2 separate regions of the Homo sapiens genome follow, and region 1 is linked to region 2. The links come from fine-mapping of genetic effects on gene expression. A gene starts in region 2. The other region holds a variant in brackets. All regions are shown on one strand. Distances are from middle to middle.

What was found. PIP is the estimated chance that this variant, and not a neighbour inherited with it, causes the effect.
Region 1: its variant is fine-mapped to the expression of MRC1 in whole blood (INTERVAL, PIP above 0.99).

The regions. Positions count from the first base shown.
Region 1 is chr10:17,825,003-17,841,731 of GRCh38, forward strand. MRC1 (mannose receptor C-type 1) reads left to right here. Exons shown (of 30, transcript NM_002438.4): 3 at 2,540-2,713; 4 at 8,673-8,837; 5 at 15,691-15,804. Among named protein-coding and RNA genes, the nearest start is that of MIR511, 12 kb to the right of the region's middle. The variant T/G (reference allele first, on the strand shown) is at 6,414.
Region 2 is chr10:17,800,033-17,816,761 of GRCh38, forward strand. It overlaps MRC1 (mannose receptor C-type 1), which reads left to right and starts at 9,316. Exons shown (of 30, transcript NM_002438.4): 1 at 9,316-9,494. The coding sequence starts at 9,434. TMEM236 (transmembrane protein 236) reads left to right here. Exons shown (of 4, transcript NM_001098844.3): 4 at 1-836.

The sequences.
Region 1 (16,729 bases), 25 kb after region 2:
AATCTATTCAATGATTTCTATGAAGACCCGGGTGATTCTGTGGCATAGGGTCTATTGACTACATTTTGCATACTCCCCAAAGATCTCCCAGCACTTAAGATGATCCTGCTCCTCAGTTCTAGCTCTGCAGAGTGACCACGAGATTGGGAACACACATTAGAACTGAAGACAGTGTCGAGAGGATGTATTGTAGGGTCTCTGTATCTCTGATGAGAACATGGGGGAGGGGTAGAATGGTGGAACTTTTTGAAAATAGGAATTATTTTAGAAGAATGGAACCAGAATTGTAGACTTAGATGGATTTGATGGTTATTTGGAAGTTCAGACTCCAAGAAGAAGACAAATTGACTGCAGTTACATGATGTGTCAGTGGGGTAGTTGGGGTTCTTTTGGCCTCATCAGTGTTGGGTGTATAGAATGGCTCAGTAGTTATTAAACAGAGTTAGTTAATAAAGCTGGCAGGCGTGGTGGCTCACGCCTGTAATCCCAGCACCTTGGGAGGCTAAGGCAAGAGGATCACTTGATTTCGGGAGTTCAAGACCAGTTTGGGCAACCTAGTGAGACCTAAACAAAATGTAAAAATAAGCTTGGTACTGTGGTGTTCACCTGTAGTCCGAGGTATTCAGGAGGCTGAGGTGGGAGCATTACTTGAGCCCAGGTAATTGAGGCTGCAGTGAGCCATCATTGCGCCACCTACTGCAGCCTGTGTGACAGAGTGAGATCCTGTCTCAAAAATAAAATAAGTAAATAAAGCTATATGTCATTGGCATCTGTAAATCCAGCGCTGAACATTTCTTGGCTAATGATGACCAGTACAACTAACCCCAAGGTGGTCTTGACTGGTTTCCTTTGTACGAAGAAACAGTCATCCCAGTGACTAAGAATGGCGCAATTATTTCTGAATACAGCGTGTTCCTAATACAATATATGATTTGGAGACCATTCCCATAACTTAGTGGAACTAAAGCTGGAATCGCATTTTAAAGTTATTAACAACTACCTTTTTGACAAAAAAGGAATTTTGAGGTCATTAAAAATAAACCTAATATTTAAAGAGGACTTGATAATTACAATGAGTAAAGGAAAAAGAAAAGAGGTCAATAACTCACATTATTGTGCTCTTACTATGCGCTACATGTTTTACAAGCTTTATATTATCAAAATGACTAAATGTCTTTTAAGAAATTTTTCTTCCTTTTTTTTTAAGATTTATTTTTTGACGCAGAGTCTCACTCTGTCACCCAGGCTGGAGTACAGTGGCGTGATCTCGGCTCACAGCAACCTCCGCCTCCCGGGTTCAAGCGATTCTCCTGCCTCAGCCTCCTGAGTAGTTGGGATTACAGGTGCCTGCCACCATGCCCAGCTAGTTTTTCTATTTTTAGTGGAGACAGGGTTTCACCATTTTGGCCAGGCTGATCTCAATTCCTGACCTCTAGTGATCCGCCTGCCTTGGCCTCTCAAAGCGCTGGGATTGCAAGCGTGAGACAAGCTAAGAACTTTTTCAAGTCGTAGAATCTGCAAAATGTAATGAATTCCTACCTAGGATAAATTCTGAATGTCAGTTGGTGGCAAGAGGTCAAATACTTTAATGTAAAAAGTTGTTATCTCTACAAAGATGGAGACTTTAAACATACTGGACAATGTAGCTATGTGCATTGTTTGGTTCTTAGTGGAGAGATGAGCTTCCTTAACCTTTTTGGCTTAAGCCAAACCATAATCAACAATGATTCTGTGTTTGTTTCAATTAACATTTCTAGTTGAACCCAGAGCTTCCCACTCAATCTGTTGGCCTTAACTTGTTGAAAAGAAAAACCTTGATTGTAGATGGTATATAACAGTTTTGAGTGGTTTCTTTTCATGATAGGGATTAGAGAACAATGCCAAAATGTCTATCCTTCCTTATGGTCATTGTTGAGGAACTCAGGTGAAGGCTGGCTTGACAAGAAGTGGTTGGAGGGGATTTAATTATTGACTATGTGTTTGGGCTATACAGCTTTAAGGTTTTTTTTAATCTAGAGATTCCAAAGCTCCATGATTCCAATCAAGAGAAAGAACTGTTTCAGAGGAAATTCAGAAGTTAAAGCTGGTGTCAATAGAGGAAGGAGGAAAAGACAGTGGAAAATGAAGTGGTACTATGAGTTATTATTACCACTTTAACTAGTATCACTTCATTTTCCACTGTCATTGGTACCACTTTGAATTGTACCATTTGAACATTTTCAAATGGTACAACTTAACAAATTAGTCTCGTTTGAAAATGTCCCAAAACGCAGTGGAAATGAAGTGGTACTAAGAGTTATTTGCTAAGTACAGACAGCTCTATGTACCCAGCAAAAGACTAGGGTAGAAGGAGAAGGAAAAAAAATACCCAAAAAAAAAAAAAAAAAAAAAAAAAAAAAAAAAAAAAAGAAATCCCTCTGTGGGTGCATCAAGTGTAATCAGAACAGTAAGACCAATTCCTTCAGTAGGCTTCTTATTGGAAAGTTAATGTTCAGAAATATCACTCACATTCCAAGTTCAAGTCAATATGTTTTTCCAGCCATGTATACGCTACTAGGCAATGCCAATGGAGCAACCTGTGCATTCCCGTTCAAGTTTGAAAACAAGTGGTACGCAGATTGCACGAGTGCTGGGCGGTCGGATGGATGGCTCTGGTGCGGAACCACTACTGACTATGACACAGACAAGCTATTTGGATATTGTCCATTGAAATGTAAGTACTGTTTATCACCAAGAAAAGTTGGGCACATTTAGTCTGATAATGTAGTGAAAGACCTTGAATTTATCTAGAGCATTTTTCCCCAAAGTTATTTCACATTTACGACCTCATTGTACCTACTACAGCCCTTTACAGACGTTATTATTTCCATTTTCCAATGGAGAAAATGATCTATATTGGCTGAAGACTAGAACACAGATGTTGGACTTTATACTGTAGGCTTTGTATGTGTATTTTGATTTTGCCAGTAAGACTAGAGTCACCCCTACTGTCTCAGCATTCCCTGAGATCATGCTAAGAGGACTAGACTGTACCCCCATGGTCCCAACATTCCCTCCATCAAGTGACCTCTTTATTTATTTATTTATTTTTTGAGACGGAGTCTCGCTGTGTCTCCCAGGCTGGAGTGTGGTGGTGCGATCTCCACTCACTGCAAGCTCCGCCTCCCGAGTTCACGCCCTTCTCCTGCCTCAGCCTCCCGAGTAGCTGGGACTACAGGCGCCCGCCACCACGCCTGGCTAATTTTTTGTATTTTTAGTAGAGACGGGGTTTCACTGTGTTAGCCAGGATGGTCTCGATCTGCTAACCTCGTGATCCGCCCACCTCGCCTCCCAAAGTGTTGGGTTTACAGGCATGAGCCGGCGCGCCCGACTATGACCTCTTTATTTTTACCAACTATCAGTTACTCAGCGAAAATTATCCTGTACACAATATAGTATATACTTAACACGGGAGGTAGGTAGGCATGCTATTATTCCCTCATCTCTGAAATGCCTTACCTTTATGAAACCATAGATCAAAAACAGAATTCAAAGGAAGCCACAAGCATGTGGTTTGATGGAGAAAGACGTGAAGGTCCTGAATTTTGTGTCAATGTCATCAAAAGTGTTCTTCACAGTGAAAATGATAGTCAGGATACTCTTCTTATGTTTAAATTAAGAAGGGTGCCATTTAGTTTCACACAGCTAGAAATCAATGGAACTCGGTAATTTATATGCTTCAAGGTTTCTTAAAAATGAAAATTCAGGTTTTATTGCAAGGATGCAAAATAAGCAGTATCGCATTATCTTAGTGGGAAAGCACCAGAACAGATGAATTCTTGGTGTTCTTCCACGCTTAAAAATCTGTAGGCAAATAGTGAAGCACATTTTAGGTGGAGTGGAGGAGGGCGTCATGTTGAAGGCAGAGCTGGGGCTGAGGAAAAAGGAAAAGGAAGTATTCCTCTTAGCTTCACGTTCCCCATCACCAGACACCCTCCTCCTGATGCTGGCTCCACCCTTCCCAAACTTCTTACCCCCGACCTCTCACCTGCTACTTTAGACCAGATCAGAGTAGCTCTTGTTTCCTGGTTATCACCCAGAACTCTTTCTCCTGCTGCCCTGCAAAGGGACTGGGCAGAGCAAAGAGCATTCGATATGGTCTGGGATGATTGTGACACCACCTGAGTAACAATAGAATCACGACTATCACAACTCAACTTTCCAGACCACAAATCCACAAGTAATCACACTATTTCAAGCATTATTGTAAAACAGAACAACTTAAAAAATACCTGAATTTGACGAACAAAAGCCAGAATTCTAAGAATTGTACTTATTTATCTCTCTGGATTTATAATCCCTAATTATCACACTAAAAGTAAATTTAATTTCTGAGCCCCATATACTATTGTAATTGTCTTCAGAGTGCAGTCTCTCCAATCCGAATGAATACTCACAAAAGCCCATAGGCTTTCTGTTCATAGCGACACTGCTGCCTCGGTCTTAACTGAGGTAGTTCTATTTGTCTCTCTTATGTCAATCTTTAGAAAGACATTTGATTTCCATTCAAGGTTTTTAGATGTCGAATTTTGTATTCGAAGTATTTTTGTCTGAAACACATTGAGCAATTTTTTTCTAAGATAAAGCAATACTTGGTTTTCAAGTGATTGAAAGTGTCTTTCTCCTTTACTTAATAGGAATGATATTTTCTTAATCTGTTTCATGGACTTTCTTAAGGGTATATATTTCATGGGTCCAACTATAGCATCCTCCACATCCTTTGAAATTGACAAAGGAGTTAGATGAATGTGTGATTTCCTGAATGAAATGTGGAGGACAAGTGGTAAGTTACTAATCACAAAGAAAACTCACAATCTTGGAAATCCTTGGATGTGTGTTGGAGACGTATCTTGAGTTTGTTCAGTGGAATAATTTTTTAGTCTTATTACTTGTATTTATGCCTTCACTGTCAAATTATATATTTTTTCCTGTTAAATGTAAAATAATCGTAGAAAATAAATTGATTTGGTTTCAATATGCATTAAAATTTTAAATCACGTTTTGTACATTTAATATCTTTCTTAAAGGGCTTTATAGTCTTCCAGTCTGTTTCATTTTGTGTTCTTTTCAAAAGAGTTTTTATTGTATTTATTTATTTATTTATTTTTGAGACAGGGTCTCACTCTGTCATCCAGACTGGAGTGCATTAGCATGATCTTGGCTCACCACAACCTCTGCCTCCCAGGCTCAAGTGATTCTCCTGCCTCAGCCTCCTGAGTAGCTGGGATTACAGGCACCCACCATCACGCCTGGCTAGTTTTTGTATTTTGAGTAGAGAAGGGGTTTCACCATGTTGCCCAGGCTGGTCTCGAACTCCTGACCTCAAATGATCCACCCACCTCGGCCTCCCAAAGTGTTGGGATTACAGGTGTGAGCCACCGTGCCCGGACGAGCATTTTATTTTATATCAGCCTTAAAAGTGGCAGGTTTTATACAGGAGGATGAGGAACCAGTTATTAACCTAGTAACACTTAGTAGATGCTCTCCATTGTCCGTTGCATTGTTTATTGTAATGCTTTCCTTCCATGTAGACATTTATTTTCAAGTATCGTGAGAACAGGTAAAGGAAAATTCTTGGTTCTCTCAGTTCTCTGTAGCAAGTTTAGCTTCCAGCATCAGTTGTGTTGGTTTACTGTGGGAATTTGAACTCCTTGGGGAGATGGTATGCAATCAGCAAACCTAAACATTAATTGAGAAATATGTTTAAATCCCTTGGTTTAAAATGTACTTTCTTTAAGTGAAAGGTCAATTGCATTTCCTTCTTACGTCATTTATGTCACTTGCCTCCATTCCTAGGTTTAAAAACAACAACAAAACCCTTTTTTATGTCTCACATTTTCTACTATATATATATATATATTTTTGGAGACAGAGTCTTGCTCTGTCACTGAGGCTGGAGTGCAGTGGCATGATCTCGGCTCACTGCAACCTCTGCCTCCCGGGTTCAAGTGATTCTCCTGCCTCAGCCTCCTGAGTAGCTGGGATTACAGGCGCGTGCCACCATACCTGGGTAATTTTTTTTTTTTTTGTATTTTTAGTAGAGACGGAGTTTCACCATGTTGGTCAGGCTGATCGCGAACTCCTAACCTTGTGATCCGCCCACCTCAGACTCCAAAGTGCTGGGATTGCAGTCGTGAGCCATGGCGCCCGCATTTTCTACCATATTATAAACAAAACCTTCCTCCAGTTGTCTAAAACGAGTTGTTTAAAACATCTCTATCTTCAAATATACCCCAAATTAGTCTTATTTGAATGGTCTCACCGACATACACATGAAACTTGCAACACCTCAGATCATTATAATTTAAATTTAGCATTACTGATTCAAATTTATTTTTATATAAGCATATAATGATTTTGTAGTTAAAGCACCT[T/G]AAAAATTTGTATGCTGTTGCCTGAATCAAATTTTGATATGTTTTCTTCCTCTTTGATATGTCATGGGACCACAAGTTTCATATCATGGTGTGTGGTTTGCATATTACAAAAAGGTCTATGATCGCTTCCTCATCAGATATAAAGGGCAATTAGATACAGTTAAGAGTTACAAGAGTGTAGGCTATGTGCTTATGGAAAATTGCCTAATTTCTTAGTAAATTGAGTATTTCTCAGAACATTTTCAGAGAAGTTATATAATACTTCCTTTTTTCCTTACAAATAAATGAAAAGATCATTACTTCACATGGCTTGTAAGCAGAATTTTATATTATTAAAAAGAAAAAAGAAATATTCACTACATGAAGCATGCCAAAATATTTCATTTGTTTACTAGCTTCGCAAACATCATATATGTGAAAAACTATCAATAATATTTATTTGTATATCATTGGCCGCTTACAGAGTACAACCAGGTTTATGGAATTTATTAGGAATCATAAAATAGCAAAGGAAGAAATCAGCTTGTGATTTTTTACTCTGTGGAATGAAAAAGTTACAAGCAACATTTGCTATTGCTAAGCGCTCCACCTGTATTAAATATATTCTAGCAATGAGAAAACGAGACTTCAAAAGTTAATAATTTATCTGAAGTCAAGTCTCCAGTGAGCGATAGGACCTCAGGTGCAGGCCCAGGCCAGTCTGTCTGCAGGAGTCCGTGACCTTCCCTGCTGACAATCTTATGCTTCCAGAAAGACCAAACTAGAATGTGCAGGCAAAGGCAAAATATCCACCTGCTGAGAAGATGTACGTTTATTTTCTTTGCTTCCCCTGCCTTACTTTACTAGATCAAGGAATTTGGGCTGGTATCCGTTCTTTTAAAACATGTTTTATTCACTTTGGGAAGCCGAGGCGGGTGGATCACAAGGTCAGGAGATCGAGACCATCCTGGCTAACACCTTGAAACCCCGTCTCTACTAAAAATACAAAAATTAGCCGGGCGTGGCGGCGTGTGCCTGTCGTCCCAGCTGCTGGGGAGGCTGAGGCAGGAGAATGGCGTGAACCCGGGAGGCGGAGCTTGCAGTGAGCCGAGATTGCACCACTGCACTCCAGCCTGGGCGACAGAGCGAGACTCTGTCTCAAACAAAACAAAACAAACAAAAAAAGTTTTATTTTTATTTATTTAGTTTTTGAGACGGAGTCTCGCTCTGTCGCCCAGGCTGGAGTGCAGTGACGCGATCTCGGCTCACTGCAAGCTCCGCCTCCCGGGTTCACGCCATTCTCCTGCCTCAGCCTCCCGAGTAGCTGGGACTACAGGCGCCCGCCACCACGCCCGGCTAATTTTTTTTGTATTTTTAATAGAGATGGGGTTTCACTGTGTTAGCCAAGATGATCTCCATCTCCTGACCTTGTGATCCGCCAGCCTCGGCCTCCCAAAGTGCTAGGATTACAGGCGTGAGCCGCTGTGCCCGGCTATTTTTATTTTTATATATGTAGGGGGTATATGTGCAGATGTCTTGCATGCATATATTGCATCATGGCAAAGTCTGGGTACCCGAACTGTGAACATTGTACCCAATGGATAATTTTTGAATCCTCACCCTCCCACCCTCCCACCTTTTGTAGTATCCAAGGTCTATTGTCTTTATATTTGTCTCACTTCCCAACTCAATTGATCCCGAAAGGGAAATCGTGCCTGCCTTTCTTTCTTTAGGCATGTGGAAAAGACTGGATGTAGCTGATCCTTTGAAACCTCATCCCCTACTTCCTATTTCATTTCAGGAGTAAAGAAAATCTCAAAGTCATCTTAAAAACAAGTAAAACAGTCCGGGCATAGTAGCTCACCTTTGTAATCCCAGCACTTTGGGAAGCTGAGGCAGGAGAATGGCTTGAGAACAGGAGTTTTAGACTAGCCTGGGCCACATAGAGAGACTACATTTCTGCAAAAAGTTAAAAAGTTAGCCAGGCATGGTGGTGCATGCCTGGAGTCCCAGCTACTCGGTAAACTGAGGTGGGAAGATTGTTTAACCTCAAGAGTTGGAGAGTACAGTGAGCCAGAATCACAGCACTGCACTCCAGCCTGGGCAACAGAGCAAGACTCTGTCTCAAAAAAAAAAAAAAAAAGTAGAAAGGGGGAAAAAAAGAAAGGAAAGAAAGAAAGTGCTTCAGGCAAAAATGCTCCTAGGTGGTTTAAATAATACTATTCACTGGAAGTGTTTTCTATGCATAATGAACCAAATTCCATCTGATTTCTTTCACAGTTGAGGGCAGTGAAAGCTTATGGAATAAAGACCCGCTGACCAGCGTTTCCTACCAGATAAACTCCAAATCCGCTTTAACGTGGCACCAGGCGAGGAAAAGCTGCCAACAACAGAACGCTGAGCTCCTGAGCATCACAGAGATTCATGAGCAAACATACCTGACAGGTAAGGACATGAAAAGTCTCAAGTAAAATCATGACTGCTTTATTTTTATATAATTTAACTTAGAAGTCAACAGCACAAGTGTTTATAGATGTTATGACAGAAGCAATTCTTAAGCAGTTTATGTGGATGTCATGACAAATCTGTACTCTGAAAATGACACCAGGGATGGCAAATAGCTCTCATTTCCTGTGCCAACTATTGGTTTTAAGAGTCTCTAGAGCCAGTGCTAAGAAGGATTCTGAGGGCTAATCTAGAATCAGAGTAAAAGATGCCACAATCGATTAATGATGTCGTTCTTGGACGCAAGGCAGTGGAACAATCCTGGTCAAGTATCCATCATCCAGGTCTAACCTGAAGCCACAGGTCTTTCATTAGCCTCATAGAGGTCAAAATGATAAATTAAAAGACTGCTACCACTGGCAGAGACAAGTCAGAGGCTGTTTTGAAACCCTGAAACCCTGAGTTCTTTTAGCCTCCTGTCCCTCGAACCCCCAGGCTCTACCAGTTTTCAGGTTTTATTGATACTCTTTCCACAATGTGTTTGGTTTTGATGTTGTTTTGTTTTGTGTTGTGTTGTTTTGTTTTGTTTTGAGACGGAGTTTCCCTCTTGTAGCCCAGACTGGAGTGCAATGACGCAATCTCAGCTCACTGTAACCTCCACCTCCCGGGTTCACATGATTCTCCTGCCTCAGCCTCCCACGTAGCTGGGATTACAGGTGCTTGCCACCATGCCCAGCTAATTTTTTGTATTTTTAGTAGAGACGGGGTTTCACTAGGTTGGACAGGCTGGTCATGAACTCCTGGCCTCAGGTGATCCACCTGCCTTGGCCTCCCAAAGTGCTGGGATTACAGGCGTGAGCCACCGTGCCTGGCCAATGTGTTTGTTTTTAAAATATCTGTTTTTATTAGATTGTGAAGACTAAAAGGGCTAAAGTTTGCTTGAGAAGAGAGTATCCGTTTTAGCTTCTAAAATATACACTTGGGGAAACAGAGAGATTAGGATCAGAAATTAGTGTGGGAGCAAAAGCATCCCCGATTTCTTGCCCCCAAAATCTCCTCCCTCCAGTTTTTCTGGACACGGCTATATTAATATTAGTCTGTCTCTGCTCCTATGACTGCCATGTTCAAAAAACCCCTTGTGGCTTCTCATTTCCCATCAAATAATTAACAAAATACATTTTGCCTGACATTCAAGATTGCCACCTGCTGAACATCTGTACTATTCCCGGTCTTGCATTTTGCGGTCACAACAAAAGAAAAGTCAGTCTTGGATTCCTTGTTTTTCCTCATCCATTCTCACCCTCACATCTTTTCCCATGTCATTTCTTTTGCCTGGAATTCTCACGATTGTGTACAGTTGAAATGCAATTCTATTTCCATCTGCATTTCTCTTATTTGCTTATTACCACTTTTATTAGTATAATAGCTACTTACACATATGTCCTGCTTCCTTGACAACACTATAAATACATTAATTTGTTATTATTTATTTACTTATTCATTCATTCCCAAGATATCTTGTACCCATGTGCCAGGCTTTGTGCTAGGTCCTGGGGACATCAAAGCTGACCCTGTCTTGTCCACATGCAGCTTAAAAGTCCAATGGGAAGAAACAGATGTAAACAAGAAAACAAACAAATGAATAGGTACCAATTATAATAAGTCCTGCATGGAAAGCAAACTGAAGGCCATGTGGAGATCGCGTCAGAGGGGGAAATAGCTGAAAACGGGGAATGTCTTGTGAATATTTATGACCCCTCTTCCCCCAAGGAGGTTCACACAGAGCCTTCCAAGGAAGGGTCTCACCAAACATTTGCTGACTGACATGTTAACATGCAACAAAATAAAAATACTTAGAAATTCAGTCTCCTGTTTGGAAAACTAGACAGTCATGGCAAGAAGACAGTAAATGCAGTGGTTCTTCTGTGTGAAGTGGCTTATTCATCACCTTGGAATTCTGTTAAAGTGATGATGCCTGGGCTGAGATCCCGAAGACTCTAGATCAGTAGGTGTGACACAGGGCACAAGAATCTGCCTTTTGTCAAACTCCTGGGTGATTCTGGGGCAGCTGGTTGAAAGACCATATCTGGCAAAACACTGTGTTAGTTCCTGCTGTATCCAGGTGCTAACACCAGGCAGCAGAGCAGAGAGGCTGAGAGCAAAGATTCTGCAGCCAGACTGCCTAGGTCCCAGCTCTGTGAAACTGGGGGAGCTTGTGGGGATTTGCTGAGGCACCTGTGCTTTGGTGACCTTGTCTGTTAAAAGAGCTAATGTGTGTGAGCCAATACAAGGGCAAGAGCACACTCCCTACCTTGCCTCATTTCTTAGCACCTACCTTTTTCCAGCTATTTTCAGATGACACCCGTCACCAACCAGAACACATCTCTCCTATAAGTTATTATTAAGGAGACCGAGGATAGAAAAGCAATATGATGTCACTGTGGATTCATAGTCTTAGAGATAGGGTTCTTCCTCTGTCTGCTCAATTATTCTGTTTTGCATTAGCCTTTGGGACCCTTCTAATAGTGGAACAGAAAGGATCAGAGTGATTCATATTTACAACCATGCACAAAAATAAGGAGGAAGAGGAGAAAGTACAGAATAGACAAAAGTAAATTTATGTAGATGATTAAGGAATAGAAAAGATGATTCGAGGCAGTCTTGTGGTTATTTGGGCAGACTTGCAGGCACGAGAGAAAATGTATCAGAGGTGGTCTGGGCACAGTGGCTCACCCTTGTATTCCCATCACTTTGGGAGGCCGAGGTGGGTGGATCACCTGAGGTCAGGAGTTTGAGACCTGCTTGGCCAACATGGTGAAATCCCATCTCTACTAAAAATACAAAAAATTAGCTGGGCACGGTGGCAGGCTCCTGTATTCCCAGCTACTCGGGAGGCTGAGGTAGGAGAATGGCTTGAACCTGGGAGGTGGAGGTTGCAGTGAGTCGAGATCGCACCATTGCACTCCAGCCTGGGCAACAAGAGTGAAACTCGTCTCAAAAATAAATAAATAAATAAAAATTTAAAAAAAAAGGAAAGAAAATATATCAGAGGTGCAGAGGTGAAATGGTTTCAGTTGATGTGTTTTTGGTTTTTGTGTTTGAATTTATTTGTGGGGTGTGTTATCTCTTGGAAGCCTGGGGACAGAGCACAGGTTACTTTGTGCGCTCTCCACCAGCTACAGAGAAGGAGCAAGTGATCTGAGCGGACAGCGGCTTTGCCCAAGCACAGACTCATTTCCTGGTTCCCGGACTCTGCTATCGGACTCGAGCTGCAGGAAATGCTTCCCTAATCAGCAAGGGCTTTTCTTGTGTCTATCAGGACAGCAAACAAGCCCCAGGAGATCCAGAGGCTGGGTTCACCTCAGATACTTACTTGAATCTTATCCAAGCCTCCGGAATTTCAGTCAGCAAATTTTCACTGGCATCTGGATAAGAATGGCATCTCTAACGAGATTTGTAGTACTTCCTGCCTTTCTTTAAGTAAAAAATGTCAGGCATTAGGACAAGAAAAACTCTGACAGGGAATTTAAAAAATAGGGGAAAGATATTCCCTCCCCACTGTTTATTTGAAAGAAAGGGATGATACTCAGTGTTGATTGAGATATATTGGGGAATAATCCAGAAAACAGTGGTGTGAGTGTGTAATTGCAATCCACTCTATTTTGGAAAATATGCCATTAAAATGAAAAAACAACCTACAAAATATTTACACTTTTAAAATAAGTTTTCTTTTATGTGAGGGTTTTGAAAAGTCTGTATCTTTTTATTTTATTTTATTTTATTTTATTTATTATTATTATTTTTTTTGAGACAAAGTCTCACTCTGTCGCCCGGGCTGGAGTGCAGTGGCACTAGGACTTAAGTGATTCTCGTGCCTCAGCCTCCTGAGTAGCTGGGGCTACAGGCATGTGCCACCAAGCCTGGCTAATTTTTTGTATTTTAGTAGACACAGGGTTTCACCATGTTGCCCAGGATGGTTTTGAACTCCTGAGCTCAGCTGATCTACCAGCCTCAGCCTACCAAAGTGCTGGGATTACAGGCGTGAGCCACCATGCTCGGCCAGTCAGTATCATTTTTTAAAAATGTAGAACCTGGTTTGATGACTCTAATTAAATTGTCTGCCAATTACTGAAGAGCTACTACATACTAGTTTCTGGGCTTTAGTTCTAAAGCCCACAGCAACCTCATGAATAAATATTATTAGCCCCACTGTATAGATGAGATAACAGACTAGGAGGGAGAAGTTAGGAAACTTGCTTAATGCCTCCTGTTTAGAAAACAGCTGAACTGGAATTCAGCCCTGTCTTCCATTTCACCCTGCCTGTGTCTCACGCACAGAACACCCGGGGATCCGCTGGTTCCCAAAGCACTGATGAGAACCCTTAATTTTGTCAACATTTCCTGGCTCCAGTAAATGTGTTCCAGATTGGTGGTGATCTGATTTCATATTATCTGCCAGGTGAAATGTTTCTGCCTGGCAACACGTTTGCACACTACCCACAGCTGTTTTATCGTCTTCCCTTCTGTTTCTACCCCGAAAAATGTTGGGACGCTCTATGGAGTCTCTGAGTCCTGAATCAGATTTGTGGCTCCGTATGTGCAGGATGAGGATTTACAGAACTGAAATAAGATATAGGAAGTGAAATTTGGCTTGTTTCCCCGATGGTTTTTACCAGTTTCCTTTGGTACTGCCTGAAAAACACATTGGACCTCAATTAAAAAAAAAAAAAGAAAGTAAAAAAAACAGTGTAATATTGGACATTTGTGTATCTTCTATTACATCTAAGTTCAAAAGTTGGTATATAACCATTTCAGACAATATATGCAGAAAAGTTACGCCTTGAGCATGTGAGGCTGGGCGCAGTGGCTCACGCCTGTAACCCCAGAGCCTTGGGAGGCTGAGGTGGGAGGATTGTTAGAGTTCAGGAGTTCGAGATCAGCCTGGGCACTACAGTAAGACCCCAACTGTACAAAAAAAATTTCTGGTTTGAGTTGGTGTCTGGAAACAAAACAAACAACAAAAATTTAGCATGTGGAATTGTTGCTTTGTGCAGCAATACTAAAATATTTTGGTCTGCTCTTTTATAAAATTACAAAAGCATATTAGAGAAAATTATTTGTGGACAACACCCATCTGCTTTAAGAGATATATTTTAACCCAAGATTTGAATTTTGCTTCTAAGTCACACCTTTGCCAACCTTAATATGAAGCTATTGATAATAATAATAATAATGGTAATAATAACAGTAGTAACTTATATTTATGGGGCATATACCATATGTCAGGCCTTGTTTTAAAAAGTATTAACTAATTCAGTTCTTCAAGACAAGTTTATAAGTACTTAGAGCTGGTAAAAGATGTCAAAAGGTAATTCTCTTAAAGAGCTATTATCATTTCTCATGATGCCAAACATAGTAATTTAGTTACGCAGTCTCAATATCTACTTCAGTTCTTCTTTAATCAGCGAATTATTTATAATTTTTAAAACTTAAATACACTTATTTTCGTAATTAAGTTTTTTAAAATCCCTGAGTAAATTGGTTTTGGGAATAGCTAGTATTAAAATGCTACTTTTAGGAGCATGTCCTGTAGAATACGTCTGTGCAAGTAGAAAGATAATTATATTTAAGTTAGTACAACTTTAAAGAATTTGTGAAAATTCTTTTAAAGAATTTTTTTGAAGGTTGTTGAGTACAGTGGTGTGTACCCTGTAGTCCCAGCTATTTAGGAGACTGAGGTAGGAGGAACGCTTGGACCCAGGAGTTGGAGAGCAACCTGAGCACCATAGTGAGACTCCATCTCTAAAAAATAAAAATAAATTTAAAAAATGTTTTTAAAAGCCAAAGGATAGTTTTTATTTTAATTAATTGCTTTTGATCAATTAAAATAACTCAGAACAGAGAATTCTCATTGATGGTTTCAAAAAAGATAGAGGTGGCAGGGTATGGTGGCTCACGCCTGTAATCCCAGCATATTGGGAGTCTGAGGTGGGCGGATCACCTGAGGTCAGGAGTTTGAGACCAGCCTGGCCAACATAGTGAAATGTCATCCCTCCTAAAAATACAAAAAAAAAAAATTAGCCAGGCGTGGTGGCGGTCACCTGTAATCCCAGCTACTCGAGAGGCTGAGGCAGGAGAATCGCTTGAACCCGAGAGGAGGAGGTTGCAGTGAGTGGAGATTGAGCCACTGAACTCCAGCCTGGGCGACAGTGCAAGACTCCAACTCAAAAAAAAAAAAAAAAAAGAGCGGTAATAATAGGTTAGAGTGTTTACCGCTGAAGAGCTGAGGTCCGTGTTGTTTCTGGTTTTATGACTTCCACATCAGTCCTAGAACAGAATTGGAAACATTGTATTTTTGATTTCTTCACTGCTTAAGCAAAGCATCCTTGGTGTTAGCATAAGCACTTAGTGATTAGTATTTAATCATCATGTTAACGAAGAAGAGAAATTGACTTTAAAAAATGATAAAATAAAATTCTTAGAATAAGGTTTGAAATATGCAGTGGAGGTAACACCTATTCATATTCACACAAGAAGACTTTACACTATCCTTGAGAAAGTAGATAATAGTCAAGATGATGGGGTTTGAAGCCTCATTAGATCTGGGTTGGAACTTTAAAAATCTTACCAGATTACCTATGCTGCCTCTGCCTCCGTTTCCCCACCTATCAGTGAAGGTAATAATTTTACTTGCCTTAGGTTGTCAGGAGAATCAAAGGAGACATGGTAGGCATGATTATTGTTACTTCCCTCAGTGACATTTTGATTCAAGCACTTAGTTCTGAATTTAATTTCAACTGTTTTCTGAATGCCAAGTTCTTGTTTGTTTGTTTTGCTTTCTTTAAAAATATAGGATTAACCAGTTCCTTGACCTCAGGACTCTGGATTGGACTTAACAGTCTGAGCTTCAACAGCGGTTGGCAGTGGAGTGACCGCAGTCCTTTCCGATATTTGAACTGGTTACCAGGTAGGGTTAAGCCTGTTTGTGTCGAATTAATCCAAATTTAAGTCATCTAGACGCCCCGAAGACGTTTATTATCTCACCTGTTGATCTCAAAGAGAAGAATTGGGAGACTTCATCAAATACAGTTCATTTCACCTTGTTTTGAAATCTATGCTAGATTTCCATTTACTGAATTGTAAGGTTATACCAGCTTCCTGGGATAGGGATTTGTCTGCCAGGATTCTCACACAAAACAATAAAGGTCTCTGTTTAAAGTTTCAGTTCTCAGAGTATCCCTGATGTGTTGGGTACTATATTCAAAAGCAGATGTTGTGGCTACTCTTAAACATGATTTACTAAATATGCTACTTGCATTGTTACTATATACTTGCTGTTGCATTGACTTTGTCAACATCCTTGAGAGGATTAGCCAACATCTCTTTGTAAAGTTTGACAAGTGGATTGAAATTATTTTGGGTTGGAGAGATTTTTTATGACTGTACCTTGAGTCATGAGGTATTTGCAATATTGCTGTCCTTGTGACAGTGATTTTAACATCTACATTAACACCCACTTTTCCTGTTTTTGATTTAATAACATCGGCTTAAAAATACTATCTCAGTTACAGCTTATGATATTCCATACTAGCATAAAAATTCATTAGAGGTTTCTCAACAGTAGTTTATAGAAAAACAGAGTTGGGGATGATAAAACCTACAACAGCTTTCTAATTTTTTTAGAGGATAGAAAATGCTGTGAACTAATTATTTCTACATTGTCATAACATGAAAGTAACAGAATATAAAATAAGTTTACATATTGAGCAACTATTTAGAGAAAACAAAAAAATGATATAAAGTTTTTCTTATTCACCAGTACCAACTGGCGTTAGTAGCCACTTGAGGCCTTCTATTGGGTATAAATTCAATCCCCACCCCTCAATCCCACC
Region 2 (16,729 bases):
GTTATATATATTATTAAAATTATTAGGTTGGTGCAAAAGTAATTGAGGTTTTTGCCATTGAAAGTGGTGGTGCATGCCTGTAATCCCAGCTACTCGGGAGGCTGAATCAGAATTGCTTGAACCCGGAGGGCAGAGGTTGCAGTGAGCTGAGATCTCGCCACTATGCTCCAGCCTGGGCAACAGATTGAGACTCTGTCTCAAAAAAAAAAAAAAGTCAAGTACAGTTAGTTAAAGGAATGTGCATTTAAAAATTAATCTATGATTAGGCTATTAATATATAGTCTAATAATTTTATTGCATTATAATTATAAAGTAGTTTTATAATTTTATAAAATTTTATTGATGCTGTAATTTTTATAAAATTTTATTTATTTTATAATTTTACAAAAAATTCTAATACCTGTAATACACTTTTTAGTGCCTTTTCTTTCTAAAAGTTAATGTTTGAAATTACAATGTGTAAATGTTATCTCGTCTTGTTTTTCTTATTAGGGCCCCATTTCACTGAATGACAATTGCAATGAGGCATAGGAAAGAAAAGGGAAATGAAATTGCTTGCTGAAGTCCTACTATGTTCTGGGCACTATGCTGTTTGCCTAATACATAATTGCCTTGTGCTGTGTACCTTGGAGCAGGGCCTTACATAGTGAATATATCAATAGTTGTTCACAAAAAGAGCAATATACCACTTAGAAGCTACAAAACTTAAAAATGGCTACTTATACTCCATAGAAGATATAGTAAATAATAGAAGAAAAAAATGAAATGGCTAAAGACATTTTGTTTTACAATGGGGCTGTTTTTACATGTTAATTAAAATTCTATGTTTAAACAAATCTCTTGTGATGGCTGTTTCATTATGAGAGGATGCATTTGTATTAGTCAGTCCTCTAGAGGGACAGAACTAATAGGATAGATGTATATATGAAAGGGAGTGTATTAAGGAGTATTGACTCACACGATCACAAGGTGAAGTCCCACAGTAGGCCATCTGCAGGCTGAGGAGCAAGGAAGCCAGTCCGAGTCTCAAAACCTCAAAAATACGGAAGCCGACAGTGCAGTCTTCAGTCTGTGGCCAAAGGCCCGAGGGCCCCTGGCAAACCACTGGTGTAGGTCCAAGAGTCCAAAAGCTGAAGAACATGGAGTCCAATGTTGGAGGGAAGGAAGCATCCAGCACAGGAGAAGGATGGAGGCCAGAAGACTCAGCAAGTCTAGTCCTTCCACGTTCCTCTGCCTGCTTTTATCCTAGCTGTGCTGGCAGCTGATGAGATGGTACCCTCCCAGATTGAGGGTGGGTCTGCCTCTCCCCATTCACTGACTCAAATGTTAATCTCCTTTGGCGACACCCTCACAGACACACCCAGGAACAATACTTTGTATTCTTCAATCCGATCAAGTGGACACTGAATATTAACCGTCACAGCTCTTATACAATGTTCAGCTTCCTGGTTGTCTGTCTCACATCCACCTTCTGTGCTCTGTAGTAATCGAATCCAAACACACAAACAGTAGAGTCAGAAGGTGAAAAAATAGAGAAACAGAGAGCCATGTACACCTGCCCACACAGAGACACTGAGAACCAGATCCAACTGCATTCGAAAGGTGTTTCCAATGTTTACAGGTGAGATTAATTAATGAATTCTAAATCATACAGCGCCCCTTCAGGTTGAACAATGCACAACCTCTACATCCCTGAGTACTAGTGATTAATAGCTTTAGTAACCTGAGATATTTGTATTAACAATTATTTACAAGAGCTTTTACATATATTACCATATCCTGAAGATTATTTTTTGGAAATTTCATTAATTTGTCATTTGACAAATTTGAGTGCCTGTTATAGACTAGGTATGGTTTTATATGAATTTGAGGATAATATTTACTAAAGTAACACTTGCTGTGAAAGTGTGCATTTATATATACACACATCTTAATTTCCCAAGATATGCCTATTTTTAATAAGATTATTTTTTATTTTAACTTGTAATTATTCTTATATTGAAATGGAAATAATGGATTTTTAAGGAATGCCTTCTTTCTCTACAAAACTTTTTTCTTTTAAATATTTAACTCAGATACCTTAGAGGTGTTCAGAATATTTGAGTGAATAAATAGAAAATTTGCGTTTCAAATTGCTAAAAATTATACATAATCTTACATAGTAAGTGTTGTTCTGAAGAACCAGCCCAACATTGTTGTGTCTTGGTTTCCATCTGTAAAGTATAGGTCACTTTCAGATTATAAACACATGTTTAATCTTATTCTTAAAATTTGTTTCTGCCGGGCGCAGTGGCTCACGCCAGCACTTTGAGAGGCCGAGGCGGGTGGATCACGAGGTCAGTAGATCGAGACCATCCTGCATGCTGTCTAACACGGTGAAATCCCATCTCTACTAAAAATACAAAAAATTAGCCAGGCGTAGTGGCGGGTGCCTGTAGTCCCAGTTACTGGGGAGGCTGAGGCTGGAGAATGACGTGAACCCAGGAGGCGGAGCTTGTAGTGAGCTGAGACTGCGCCACTGCCCTCCAGCCTGAGTGACAGAGCGACACTCCATCTCAAAAAAAAAAAATTTGTTTCAAAAATTAAATGGGTCAAATAGCCTTTTAATTAAATTACTTTGTAAAATTTAGTATATTAAAACGATGTGTGCCAAGACAAAACCAAATGAAACAAAGTATTGGTTATAGAAATACAAAATTCAAAGGTCCTTCAAATACTATGAATCTACACACTGTTGATTACAATAAGTCTAAATATGTTATCTGAAGACAGTTACAATTAAAGCCTAATTTTATGTAAGTAATTGAATGCAAAGAAATTGGATTGCTATGATATAGTAGTTTTCTATTAAACTGTAAATGCATTGTTGATGTTTTGCTATGGTTTTGGTAAGGACTGAAAAATATGAGGTATAAGAACATCTAAATTTTTAAATTTTTACTCAAAAATATCTTTTTTTTCTTTTGGCTGGTAGGAATTATGTTGATAAGAGTTGAATAAATTTGTTCATTAAAAGATAGGCTTACTGAAAACACCATTTCTGAAGGGCTTACCAGTTTTATCTGTGAGAAATGATGTAACAGGTTATGAAAAATTTTGCCCAGCTATTTTTCTTGGAACTATTTCAGAGCAAAGCAGACACTAAGTTCATCATACGTGAAACTGAGTGGGTAGGAGGTGGCTGGTGTTTGAGAAAGTCTAGGAGGAAATGACACAGTTGATTGTCTTGCCAATAAAAAAATGAGAATTTCCTTTATATTTTAGCTTGAAGAAAGGACTAGTTAAAAATAACCACCATCATCAATAGCTAACCAAAATTCAGAACCAGAACTTAGTAGAAGGGTGTAGACAGGATGGCATGAGTTGGATTTTTAAAAAAGTTTGGTAAAGGATACATAACACAATTATTATTGTAGTCATTTCAACTGTACAATTCAATGGCTCTAAACATATTCACCATGTTGTTTAACTATCACCACTCTGTATTTCCAGAACTTTTCATCATCCAACATCCAATGGGCTCTGTGCCCATTAAACAATAACTCTCCATTCTCCTCCATCCTCCACCTCCCACCCCTTAGTAAACTCTCTTCTTCCTATGTCTCTGAATTTACCTATTCTATATACCTCACATAAGTGGAATCACATAATATTTGTCCGTTTATGTTTGGCTTATTTCACTTAGCAAAATGTTGAAAGGTTGTACATATAGCAGGTATCAGGATTCCTTTTTACGGCTCTATAATATCCCACTGTATGTTCATACCACATTTGTTTATCTGCTAACAGACACCTGAGTTGCTTCTACTTTTTGGCTATCATAAGTAAAACTTCTTTGAACATTGTTGTACAAATATGTGTTTGAGTCCCTAATTTCAGTTCTTCTGGGTATATACCTAGAAGTAGAATTGCTGGATCGTATGATAATTATAGTGTAACTTTGTGAGGCATTGCCAAGCTGTTTTCCGCAGTGGCTACACCATTTTACATTCCCGCCAGCAATGCCCGAGGGTTCCAATTTCTCATATTCTCACCATCACTTGTTATTTTCTGTTTTTTTAAAGTAATAATTCTTTTGGGTGTGAAATTCTATTTCATTGTAGTTTTGATTTACATTTCCCTAATGACTAATGATGTTGAGCATCTTTACATGTGCTTAGCTTATTGGCCACTTGTATATCTTCTTTGGAGAATTATCTGTTCAGGTCCACCGACCATTTTGTATTTGGTTTTGTTGTGGTTATTGAGTTGTAGTTGTTAATATATTCTGGATATTCATCCCTTAATCAGATATGTGATTTACAGATATTTTCTATTTTGTGCTGTCTTTTCACTTTCTAGATAGTGTACTTTGGTGGACACAGTTTTTAACTGTGATAAAGGCCTTTTTATCTACTTTTTTATTGCTTGTGTTTTTGGTATCCAATCCAAGAAATCATTGTCAAATCCAATGTTGTGAAGATTTTATTTCCTGACGTTTTCTTCTAAGAGTTTTATAGTTTTTAGCTCTTATGTTTAGGCATTTGATCCACTTTGGGTTAATTTTTGTATTTAATGTAAGGTAAGAGTCCAATTTCATTCTCTTTCCTGTGGATGGCCAGTTTTCCCAGCACAAATGCTGTTCTTTCCTCATTGAATGCTTTTGGCACCTTGTTGGAAATCAACTGCCCACATAGGTTTATTTCTGGCCTCTCTATTGTATTCCATTGGCCTATATGGCTATCCTTATGCCTGTACCACACTGTTTAGATTACTGTCATTTTGTAGTATGATTTGAAATCAGGAAGTGTGAATCGTTCAACTTCATTCTTTTTCAAAATTGTTTTGGCTGTGCAGACTCCCATGAAATTCCATATGAACTTTAGGATGGGGTTTTTCATTTCTGCAAAAAAAAAAAATCATTGGGATTTTGATAGGGATTGCATGAATCTATAGATTATATTGGATAATATTGACATCTTAACAATATCAAGTCTTCCATTTCATGAACACAGGGTATCTTTTCATTTATTTAGGTCTTTTTCTTTCAGCAACCATTTGTAGTTTTCAGTGGACAAGTCTTTTGTCTACGTAGTTAAATTTATTCCTAAGTATTTTGTTCTTTTTGATTCTATTGCAAATGGAATTTTCTTAATTTTATTTTCAGATTGTTCATTACAAGTGTATCAAAATTCAACTGATTTTTGTGTTTTGATTTTGTGTCCTGCAACTTTGTTAAATTTGTTAGTGCTACAGTTTGTGTGTGTGGTGTGTATGTGTGTGTGTGTGGCGTGTGTATGTATGTGTGTGTGGTGTGTGTGTGTGGTGTGTATGTGTCTATTGTGTATGTGTATGTGGTATTTGTGTGTGGTGTGTGTGTGTGTGTGTGTGTGTAAGCTTTAGGACTTCCTACATTTAAAATCAGGCCATCTGTGTACAGAGATAATTTCACTTCTTCCTTTTTAATTTGGATGCTTTTATTTATTTTTTTCTTTCCTACATGCTCTTATTAGAACTTCCAGTACTAAGTTGAAGAGAAGTGATGAAAGCAAATAAAAGCACCAATCAGAACACACAGTCCTGACATTTGGAGGGCTAAATCCTTGTTGCCCGGCCTGGCCTCACCTAGCTGCACTGGGCGTGTGGGCTGCTTCCCCCTTCACAGCTGCCTGACACAGCCATAACCACAGGGAGAAGCTGAAATTCGCTGAAATGTACCAGCCTCTTTATCAAGCTCTCCCTTGGATGCTCCAAGTTTCTGACTAGACTAGTTCCCAAATACAGATGGTCCTTGACTTAGGATTGTTAGACATAATGATTTACCCACTTTATGATGATGTGAAATAGAAATGGTGCATTCAGTAGAAAATGTATTTCGAATACCCATACACCCATTCTGCTTCTCACTTTTAGTACCATATCCAATAAATTACGAGATACTCAACACTGTATTATAAAATAGGTTTTGTTAGATGATTTTGAAATAGAAGAGTTCCCTTATGACCCTCGCAGGGGGTGCGACAGGAATGAGGCTTGCTCCTTTGGTGCCCTGCTGCTCAAACCCCTAGGGGGGAGCATGCAGCATGCAGATGGGCAGGTGCAGAGGCTGTGGGGAGTGCTTTTGGGCTCCACCCCACGGCAGCATCTAGGACTCCTGAAGCCCAAGTGGGCGTGTGTTACAGTGTGCTCTTTCAGCTATACCATCTGCAGACAGCTTGTGTTAGTCAGCTCAATAGACCCTCTGCCTTATCACAAGGACAGGGAGGCAGTGTGACAGCCTGAGTTCTTGCCCAGTGTACTGGAAGAATCAGATCACATGTGGGCTGGAGGGTTGAGTGCAAGGTTTTATTGAGTGGTGTAGGTGGCTCTCAGCGAGATGGATGGGGAACTGGAAGTGGGGAGTGGAGTGGGAAGGTGGTCTTCCCCTGGAGCCAGGCTGCCTAACCCCCCAGACTATTCTCCAACCACTGCTGGCCAAACTCCCCTTGGTGTCCAGATGTCCTTCTTCTCTCTTTCTCTGCTGCGCCACCCCACTGCTCTCCACTGCTCTATTCCTTCACTCTTCTCAATGTTTAGCGCTTGTGTCTATGCCCATTAAGGTCTCAGGTTTTTATGGGCACAGGATGCGGGGTGTGGTGAATCATAGTGGTCTTGGAAATGTAACATTTGCGCATGAAAACAGGAGTGCCTGTTCCCACTTAGGTCCGTGGGCACAGGTCCGAGGGTGGAGCCCTCGCCAGGGATCCTGCCCTTCTCTACCTAGCACTTCTCTGCCTCCTGTCCCTATCAATTTTGCCCAGTTGGAAGCTAATGTAAGTGTTCTCAACACGTTTAAGGTAGGCTACGCTGAGCCGTGATGTTTGGTAGGTCAGGTGTATTAAGTGCATTTTTGACTTAGCATATTTCAACTCACATTGGGTTTAACAGGGCCTAATTTGATCATGAGTAGAGGAGCACCTGCAGTTACTTCAGTCAGTTCCTGTCCATTTGATGGCTGCTTAGATGGAGGGATGAATTCCTGGAGTTTCCCACACCACCATCTTCTGTGACATCCCTTCCCCAAGATTTGGATTTATTTTTTGCCCCAGTGGCCTCTTGTAGCCTGATAAATCTTTGTTTCAACGAGGTCAAGGTCATGGGGTAAATTCTTTGTGGGGTGGTTGGCTGCATTTTGTTTAAACTTCACAGATTTTAGTACTGATCCTAATTTTTAATTTTACTAATGTGATATACACACTTATGTAATTAAAAAACAAACCCTGGGCCAGGTATGGTGGCACACGTCTGTAATCCCAGCACTTTCAGAGGCCAAGGCGGGCGGATCACTTGAGGTCAGGGGTTTGAGACCAGCCTGGCCAACATGGTGAAACCCCGTCTATACTAAAAATGCAAAAAATAGCTGGGCATCATGGCACGCGCCTGTAATCCCAGCCACTTGGGAGGCTGAGGTAGGAGAATCGCTTGAACCCGGGAGGTGGAGGTTGCAGTGAGCCCAGATTGCACCACTGCACTCCAGCCTGGGCGACAGAGCAAGACTCTGTCTCAAAGAAACAAACCAACCCTGAATGTGATTATATACATAATTCAATTAAATGTATTTGCTTCTGAAATATATATAAATGTAAATTAGGCAGTCACTTTTGTATATGATTTATTTATATTTGAAAGCCACAAATGACCCATTTAAACTATTATTTTCATAAGCCAGTGAAACAATGTCTGAGAAACATTTTTGTTTTGTCTGTTCTGTTCTATAACCATCATTTTTTTTTTCAGTCATGTACAGCCTTAGTGACAAAGAAACTTTGGTCCTCTGTCCTACATTTTCACTATCTTTTTCCCTCCGGTCAGGATAATCTCAAATTTACATGTTAAAAACAATCAGTAAGAGAACTACATCACATTTCTAATAGGATGGAAACTTTTCAACTTTATCACAAAGACAACGAATGTGGAGGCTTTCCGTTTGAAGATAAAACTATTCATTTAAAAAATTTTAAAAATTACAATGTTTCCAGTAGCTTCTTTTTGAATTACTAACATATTCCACACTCTAGTAACGGTTTGGCCAGCTAATCGTTAGTTTCTGCTTTAAAATGTTCTAAATTCCTGTTCTACTTTTGAAAAATGACAACATAAATGTTTGGAGGGTTATTTTCTGCTTAATGAAAGATCTAGAAACATATTTTATTCTAAGAAAGAATTCCACTTGCCTTTAAATAAAGATATACCTTTTGACCAAACAATCAGATTTTCTTTTTCTTTTTTTTCTTTTCTTTTTTTTTTTTGAGATGGAGTTTCGCGTCTGTCGCCCAGGCTGGAGTGTAGTGGTGCGATCCTGACTCACTGTAACTTCCACTTCCCAGGTTCAAACGATTCTGTTGCCTCAGCCTCCTGAGTAGCTGGGCTTACAGGTGTGCATGATCACACCCGGCTAACTTTTGTATTTTTAGTAGAGACGGGTTTTTGCCATGTTGACCAGGCTGGTTTCAAACTCCTGACCTCGGGTGATCTGACTGCCTCGGCCTCCCAAACTGCTGGGATTGCAGGCGTGAGCCATTGTGCCTGGCCAGATTTTCTTTTTCTAGCAAGGGGACCCACTTAAACTTGAAGAGGACCGGGATGGTTGAGGCTGGGCAGCAAGGCTTTACTGCAAATCCTTTACCACTGTTTTTTCTGGCTTTCTAGAGAACGTTCTAGCAAAAGGTTTCTAGAACTTTCTCCTTCCTGGCCTGACTGACATTCCCTCTTAGGTGTAGCCTCCTTTTCACTTTTCTTCTGCCTGGAGGAAATGAAGCTCCACGGAACTTTCTGTTGAAACTTTCCAAGAAAAAAAAGAAAGGCTCTAAGCACTGAATGTGGAAACTGAAGGGGATGAGCTTCAACTCTGAAGTGTTTCCAGCGTAAAACTGTCCTTTCCAGGGCCCGTGTGGCTGTCACTTCAGAGTGGAGGTTGTCTGCTGAGGGACCCCTGACTCAGCTGCTTCCCAGGGGAAGCTCCGTCTTCCGGCACAGGTAATGGCCTGCAGCTTGATCTCCACCCAGCCCCATCTGAGCAGGCCGGGAGCTCCCAGGCTGTTTCACTTCTCTCCTTCCTGACTCCTCACCATCACCATCGCCCTCTCTCCTCCCCACCCCGCCACTCCTCTCCCACACGTGTCCCTTTCTCCCCTTCCTCTGCGTCTGCTCTTCTCAGAAGTTAGCTTACGAAGCAAAGTTGTTACTTTGAATTCCTGTTTTTCCAGCCACCCTCATGTGACAGGATGTCTCCTCAGTAGAGGCTTTCCCTAAATTCAGGAGCCCTTTAAAAGGGAGGGCTTCCTCTGTAGTTCTTTTCAGCTGGGCAGCTCTGGGAACTTGGATTAGGTGGAGAGGCAGTTGGGGGGCCTCGTTGTTTTGCGTCTTAGTTCCGCCCTCCTGTCCATCAGGAGAAGGAAAGGATAAACCCTGGGCCATGAGGCTACCCCTGCTCCTGGTTTTTGCCTCTGTCATTCCGGGTGCTGTTCTCCTACTGGGTAAGTCTGCTCTGAGGCAGGGGATCTCTGACCTGGGGGGCCGGAACCACACCTTCCTCTTCTGGGTTACTGTGAATGGGTTCCTTTCAACATCTTTGTGAGGAGGAAACGGGGTTCCCCTGCACCACGCAGTCCACGGCTAAGCCTGCTGCCTTCACCTGGCGGCCAGGCATGGGAGGCCTGGAGTTGGAGGAGGGAGGAGGATGCGTCTCAGGTCTCGGTTGCTGCCCTGCCGGGAACCCTACAGACCTTCAGTGTCCTCCTGACTTCTCTCATCGCTCGTTGTTCCTTCCCTGTTTTCTTCGTGCAGAAATTTCCTGCTCTGTGGTTTACTCTTTCTGGTTTTCAATTCACACTATTTCTGTCTCACCGCCAACAAACACCTTCTGAGTGTCTCTGGCTGGAAGGAGGGCAGCCCTGATGTCTCCCCGCGTCTTAGGTCCGAGGGTATCATCGCAGATCATCCCCCCAAAAGAGATTCTAAGCAATTTCCATACTCATTTTTTTTTCTGCCAGAATCATTCAGACACTTGATTGTTAGAAAGTTCATCCTTATCTGTATTCTAGACTATTCAAACTGCCGCATAAGCAGATCGATTCCTGTTTTTCTTCTTTTTCTGGAGATTAGAGATTACTCATTAGGAACAGCTCCAGAGTTGTTCAAATTCTCAAATACCTTTTCCAGTCTGTCTTTTCTATTTCTCTATACTCAGTTGCTTAAACTTCAGGATGGGAGTGCCTCGGGGGATTTTCATTCCTGGTTCTATTTGGAGATGATTTAGAAGAGATTTCAAATTTGATTTTTTGATTTCTGATCCCCCTTTAATTCTATGAAATCAACAAACACTTGCAGAGAATGGTTTGTGCCTACGATCTACTCTATGCACTGATGTGAAGGCGGGTGGGAAGTTTCCTAGGAAGAGAGTGTTTTAGTACCGCAAATGTTAAATCATAAGTATTGAGTGGTAGTGATTACAAAAACACAAGTGAAGGCGGTATGGTTTACATCCTGTCTCTCTCACTCACTAGCTTTGCGACCTTGGGCAGGCTACTTTATTTCTTTGTGCTTTAGTTTCCATGTCTATAAAATGGAAAGAATAATATTACCTGCCCCCATCAGTTCTTGTGATGATTCAATGAGTAACAATATGTGAAATGTTTAGAACAGAGTATGACCCATAGTAAGTGCCTTATAAGTGTTAGCTATTAAAATCAGTGGCAGAAAAGAAGTACATAAAAGGCCAAATAAAAAGGATAGATGAAATTAATTTTATTTTTATTTTTGAGACAGATTCTCATTTTGTTGCCCAGGCTGCAGTGCAGTGGCATGATCTTGGCTCACTGCAACCTCTACTTCCTGGGTTCGAGTGATTCTCCTGCCTCGGCCTCCCAAGTAGCTGGGATTACAGGCATGCACCACCATGCCCAGCTGATTTTTGTAGTTTTAGTAGAGACAACGTTTCACCATGTTGGCCAGGCTGGCCTCGAACTCCTGACCTCAAGTGATCTGCCCTCCTCAGCCTCCCAAAGTGCTGGGATTATAGGCATGAGCCACAGCGCCCAGCCCTGATATTATTAATGTATTTTATTTCACCCAGTAACTCGGAAATATTATCCCTCAACATTTAATCGATTTGGAATATTTTCCCATTCATTTCTTAAAACTAACTCTTCAAAATCTGGTGAGTATTGCATACTTATAGCATGTCTCAATTCACAGTAGTGTCATTTTAAGTGTACAATGGTTACATGAGGTGACTGGCTATCATACTGGGCAGCACAGACACAGTGCCTAATTTTCTTTAAACTGACTCAATAATGCTTTGAGCAATAGTGTTTCTCGGTTTGCTCAGGAGTGTTTCCCTCTTCCTGACAGCAGGATGCCCTCCTCTGACTAATGTCTTCCTCTTCATAGGCACAAATATTGGGGAGAGAAGGGGGATGCTGAAGATCTGTTTACTTGGAGAATAAACAAACAAAAAATTCAAGGGACCCCCCTTCCAGATTTTTTTTTCCTACGTGAAAGCCTGTAATTTGTGTTGTTTTGTTTTTTGAGACTGGTTTCACTCTGTCACCCAGGCTGGAGTGCAGTGGTGTGATCATGGCTCACTGCAGCCTTGACATCTGGGCTCATGCAATCCTCCCACCTTGGCCCACTCCCAACTCCCCAGTAGCTGGGACTTTGGGCTTGAGCCACTATGCCAGGCTAATTTTTAATTTTTTTTATTTTTTTTTATTTTTGTAGAGATGGGGTCTCACTATCTTGCTCAGGCCGATCTCAAACTTCTGGGCTCTGGTGATCCTCCCACTTTGGCCTCCCATAGTGCAGGATGATAGATGTGAGCCACTGCACCCAGCCTGTAACTTTTATTTTATCTTTTCTTGGCCCGAGAAGCATGTGATTGGAGGAATTTGTGTAAAGGCAGGGCACCTGCTTAGTTAGCAGCAGGTTAAACTATGCGAAGCCCCAACACCTCTCCCCTGGCTTCCTGCCCACTAGGAAAACCCATGGGAAGGTCTCCCTACTTGCCATCAGTTTATTTCTTTTCAATCCACACCCCTTCCTTCCACCTTCAGGAGAGCATCCCACAGCATTAGCACCATAAGTCTCTGTGGGCTGCTGCCAACGGATGGGCTGGTTCTCCCTGGAGGGGTCCAGGAGTCTAGAGGTTAACAGGGCTAGACGCTCACCTTTCCTACTGTTGTTCTTGCCGCACTATCTTTTTAGCACTCAGCAGCAAGGTTTCCAGCTCAGTTGGGTTATAATCATGGTAGATGCACCATGAGAGCCGGTGGGACACAGAGGTTAGACCACAGCAAAGAAGTTTAACTTGGAAATGGGAGGGTTTGGCTCACAGGTAGTGGTGTATTGGCAAACAACTACTGGTTCCAAGAAGGAAAAGAAAGGAAGCACTGATTTGACTTATGCTGTTTTGCTGTTTACTGATGTCCATGCTGTAAATATTCCCACCATGGTTGATTTCAAGCTACTGACTTGATGCCCCTGGGGGCAGAGTTGGGAAGAGATGCCAACAGTAGGCTTTTTTTTTTTTTTTTTTTTTTGAGATGGAGTCTCTCTCTGTCACCCAGCCTTGAGTGCAATGGTGTGATCTTGGCTCACTGCAACCTCTGCCTCGTGGGTTCAAGCAATTCTCCTGCCTCAGCCTCCCGAGTAGCTGGGATTACAGGCACCCGCCACCACACCCGGCTAATTTTTTCTATTTTTAGTAGAGATGGGGTTTCACCATGTTGGCCAGGCTGGTCTTGAACTCCTGACCTCGTGATCTGCCCACCTTAGCCTCCCAAAGTGCTGACATTACAGGCATGAGCCACCACACCTGGCCAACAATAGGCTCTTGCTAGCTGCTGCTATTGGTCCCAGGGCAATATGGAGCCTTTCTAGGCTCTGGGAAGGCGCTCAAACAGTGGGTCAGGTAGTATCATGAAAAGCCTAGAACATCTGCAAAAAATGATAATGAGAGACGTCTTGGTGGACAGAGAAGCCTTAGAATCATAGACCATTAAAGCAAGAACAAACTAGGAAATGATGCATTTTGACATCATCATTTTATAGATGAAGCACCAGGCTCAGGGAGGTAAAATGTCCAGAAGGTGACTGTTTAGCAGGTAGATGTAGATCCAGGACTTTGCTCAACGGCTTGTACTTTTCCACATCCCCTTAGATTTCTTGCTGCGCTGTTAGATCAAGTAAGTGCAAATTAGGTTATTCCTGTTGCCATTTGCGGGTCTCACATTTGGCTGGAAGGGATCCAACTGTGGTTCTGACATAGACATCACGCTAATGGTATAATCCTGATACTCCTCTATTTCATTTCCCTCGTTGAAATGCTAAGAAAGATAATTATTATCATGTGATTATCACAGTAGTGGTTTTTCACAAGCACTCTTGAAAACTTTGATTCCAATATAAATGTATGTCTTATGGTAAATATTGATTCTTCAGTGTATTTTTTCACAAAACTGAATTAAGTGGGAGAAAAATACAAGCACCTTTCTCCTTTTTAAATTTGTTCTCCATCTTTCTCAGTGTTTGTATCTAGAAGGCTGAGCTAACTTTTATGCTTTGGAACATAGGGCTAGATTTTATATATATAAATATATACATATATATATATACACACACACACACACACATTATATATATATATATATATTTTTTTTTTTTTTTGAGACAGGGTCTCACTCTGTCATCCAGGCTGGAGTGCAGTGGCATGATCATTGCTCACTGTAGCCTTGACTTCCCGGGGTCAAGTGATTCTCCCACCTCAGCCTCCTAAGTAGCTGGCACCACAGGTGCATGCCACCATGCCTGGCTAACTTTTGTGTTTTTTTGTAGAGATGGGGTTTTGCCATGTTGTCCAGGCTGGTCTCAAACTCCTAGGCTCAAGTGATTTGCTCACCTCGGCCTCCCAAAGTGCTGGGATTACAGGCATGAGCCACCATGCTCAACCTTAGGTTTTGACAGTTGTGCAGCTTTTGGTTTAATCTACAAATATTGCACATGAATAACTGTAGTAGAAACTTAGACCTCAGGGACCCATAGCTTCCCATAAAGCAGATGGGAAGATGTCATTGTGCACCTTTCCCTATGTGAGAAAGTTGAAGCTCTGAAGATTCAGTGGCTTGCAGAAGTCAGGTAGTCAGTAAAGACCAGAGCTAACTCTTCATTATGATCTTTAGACTCTGAGGCTAAGAAGTAGATAAATTTACTACCTGGAGTGTGTTGATCAGGAAAGATATAATGTGGTTCAAAATAACACTATGTTAGAAGAAGGACTTAGATCCCTTTATCTGTATCAATTTTTTTAGACTTTTCACTTCAAGAGGGGGAAAGGAAGGAATTAATATTTATCAAGTGTGTATTAGATGCAGATAATATGCTGGGTGCTTTACATAAATGATCTCATTTAGAAATTCACGGTAGCTTTACCAGACAGCATTATTGTCCCCATTTTACAGATGAGGAAGTAGAGGCTAGAATGGCTAATAGCACTAAGGCATCACAGCTAAAAAATGGTGGAACCAGGATTTGATTGCAAGCCTATCAACCCCAAAGAAGATAACCCTCCACACCACATCCCCTGAGGCTAGAAACCCTGCAGTTCCGTGTTCTCGGTCCTTCCGTCCCTCTTTTTTTTTTTTTTTTTTTTTTTTTTGAGACAGAGTCTCGCTCTGTCGCCCAGGCTGGAGTGCAGTGGCGCCATCTCGGCTCACCGCAACCTCTGCTTCCTGGGTTCAAGTGATTCTCCAGGGATTATAGGCGTGCACCACCCTGCCAGGCTAATTTTTGTATTTTTAGTAGAGACGGGATTTGGTCATGCTCACCAGGCTGATCTCGAACTCCTGACCTCAGGTGATCCCTCCTGCCTTGCCCTCCCAAAGTGCCGGGATTACAGGCGGGAGCCACCGTGCCTGGCCGGTCCCTCTTTCTGCACTGCTGCAACAGTTCTCTGCTCTTTCATTTCATCTTATTCTGAAACATCTCACACTGTCTGTACGACTGATTTTGCCAAGTTAACAATAATAATAATGAATATATATTAAGCAATTCCTGTGTCAGGAACTCTTCTAAGCACTTTATTTAGATGATCTCATTTCATTCTCACGACAATGAGGAGGTCCTGCTATTTCCCCCTTTATTTTACAGATGGGGAAGTGGAAGCACAGAGTAATGTTGAACTTGGCCAAGGTCACACAGTCAGCGAGCAGCGGAGTCTGTTACCTGGGAGCCAAATCCTAGAGCTCTGATTATGTCATGATCAGATTGACATGATACATACATAAGGTGAACGAATTAGTGGGGCTATGCATGGAAGAAGAAAGAGCAGTGTGGTGTCAGCTTCTTACCTAGTAAAGGGTTTTGTTTATTTATCTTAAGGGGGATCTGGGGAGGCTGGCATTCAGAGGCTGAAGAAATAGGAGTGAGAGCAGAAACTAGCTGTGGAGAAGTAGGAGGGTTCACAGTCCAGGACACAGGTAGGGCGGTCAGCAGGAGGAAGGAAGCCTCTTCTACTGACTTGGGAGCGAATGGCCCCGGGAAGGTGTAGATATTCATATCTTTAAGGTGGTAGGAGGGAAGTTGGAAGAGTTTCTTGGCCTCTGTTTTGTCCTTGTGGTCAGACCCATACTGGGTTCATATTATGTACTTTTCCAAATGGCCAGTTGCAATGACCTAAATCAGTAGTTTCCCTGAATATTTTGGGTCTGAATGAAGGATCAAAGTGACAAATGAAGTAATTCTCTGTTTTTTTTTCTTTTGTTCAACATTTCATTTCTTTTTCTTTTCTTTTTTTTTTTGAGATGGTGTCTCACTCTGTCGCCCAGGCTACAGTGCAGTGGCACGATCTTGGCTCACTGCAACCTCCGCCTTGTGGGTTCAAGAGATTCTCCTGCCTCAGCCCCCCATAGCTGGGATTACGGGCATGTGCGACCACATAGGCTAATTTTTGTATTTTTAGTAGAGACGCGGTTCCACCATGTTGGCCAGGCTGATCTCGAACTCCTGACCTCAGGTGATCCGCCTGCCTTGGCCTCCTGTTCAACATTTCTAAGCCTAAGACTGACTAACACCCTCCATCAGCCCCCAGCACCTGGCATAGCTTCTTGAATGTACTAGGTGCAGGGTAAATATTTGTTTTTCACTGAATTTGGGGTCTTTGGGGAAAACATAGGTACATTTATTTAACTGAGGCTGGTGAACATATTTCTTAGTTTGGATTCCCCAAGAAGCTGTCCTCAGACAATTGCACTCTGGTTTGAGGGCAAGTTAGTTTATTTGGGAAGTGAGCCCAGGAAACACTGACAGGGTAACGGGGAAGTGAGACAGAAAGGGAAGGTGTGTGGACACCCAGTGACCGCTGTGGGCAATGGAGTGTAGGAGCTCTGGGCGACGGTGTGGAATGGTTGCCTTGGACTCATCACATCCAAGGTACAAGAGATTTAGAGCCGTCAGCGGTTCTCCTTGGCCTCTGATGAAGGCTTCCTCCTACAGGGCATTCGTTTTCTGACCCATCTAATTTGTGCCATGTTTGAGCCTAGAGGGCTCTGATAGCCAGAAAAAGCCCCCAGGGCAAAAGGCGTGGTGCTGGCGTTTGGGAGTGGGGCCTGCATGCACCTAAACAGCGAAGGCCGAGGAGAAATAGTATAAATCTGGAGGCATCTGCTACAGCTACTTGCTGCTTTTCCTCTTATCTGGCTTCTCTGTCTTCCAGAAG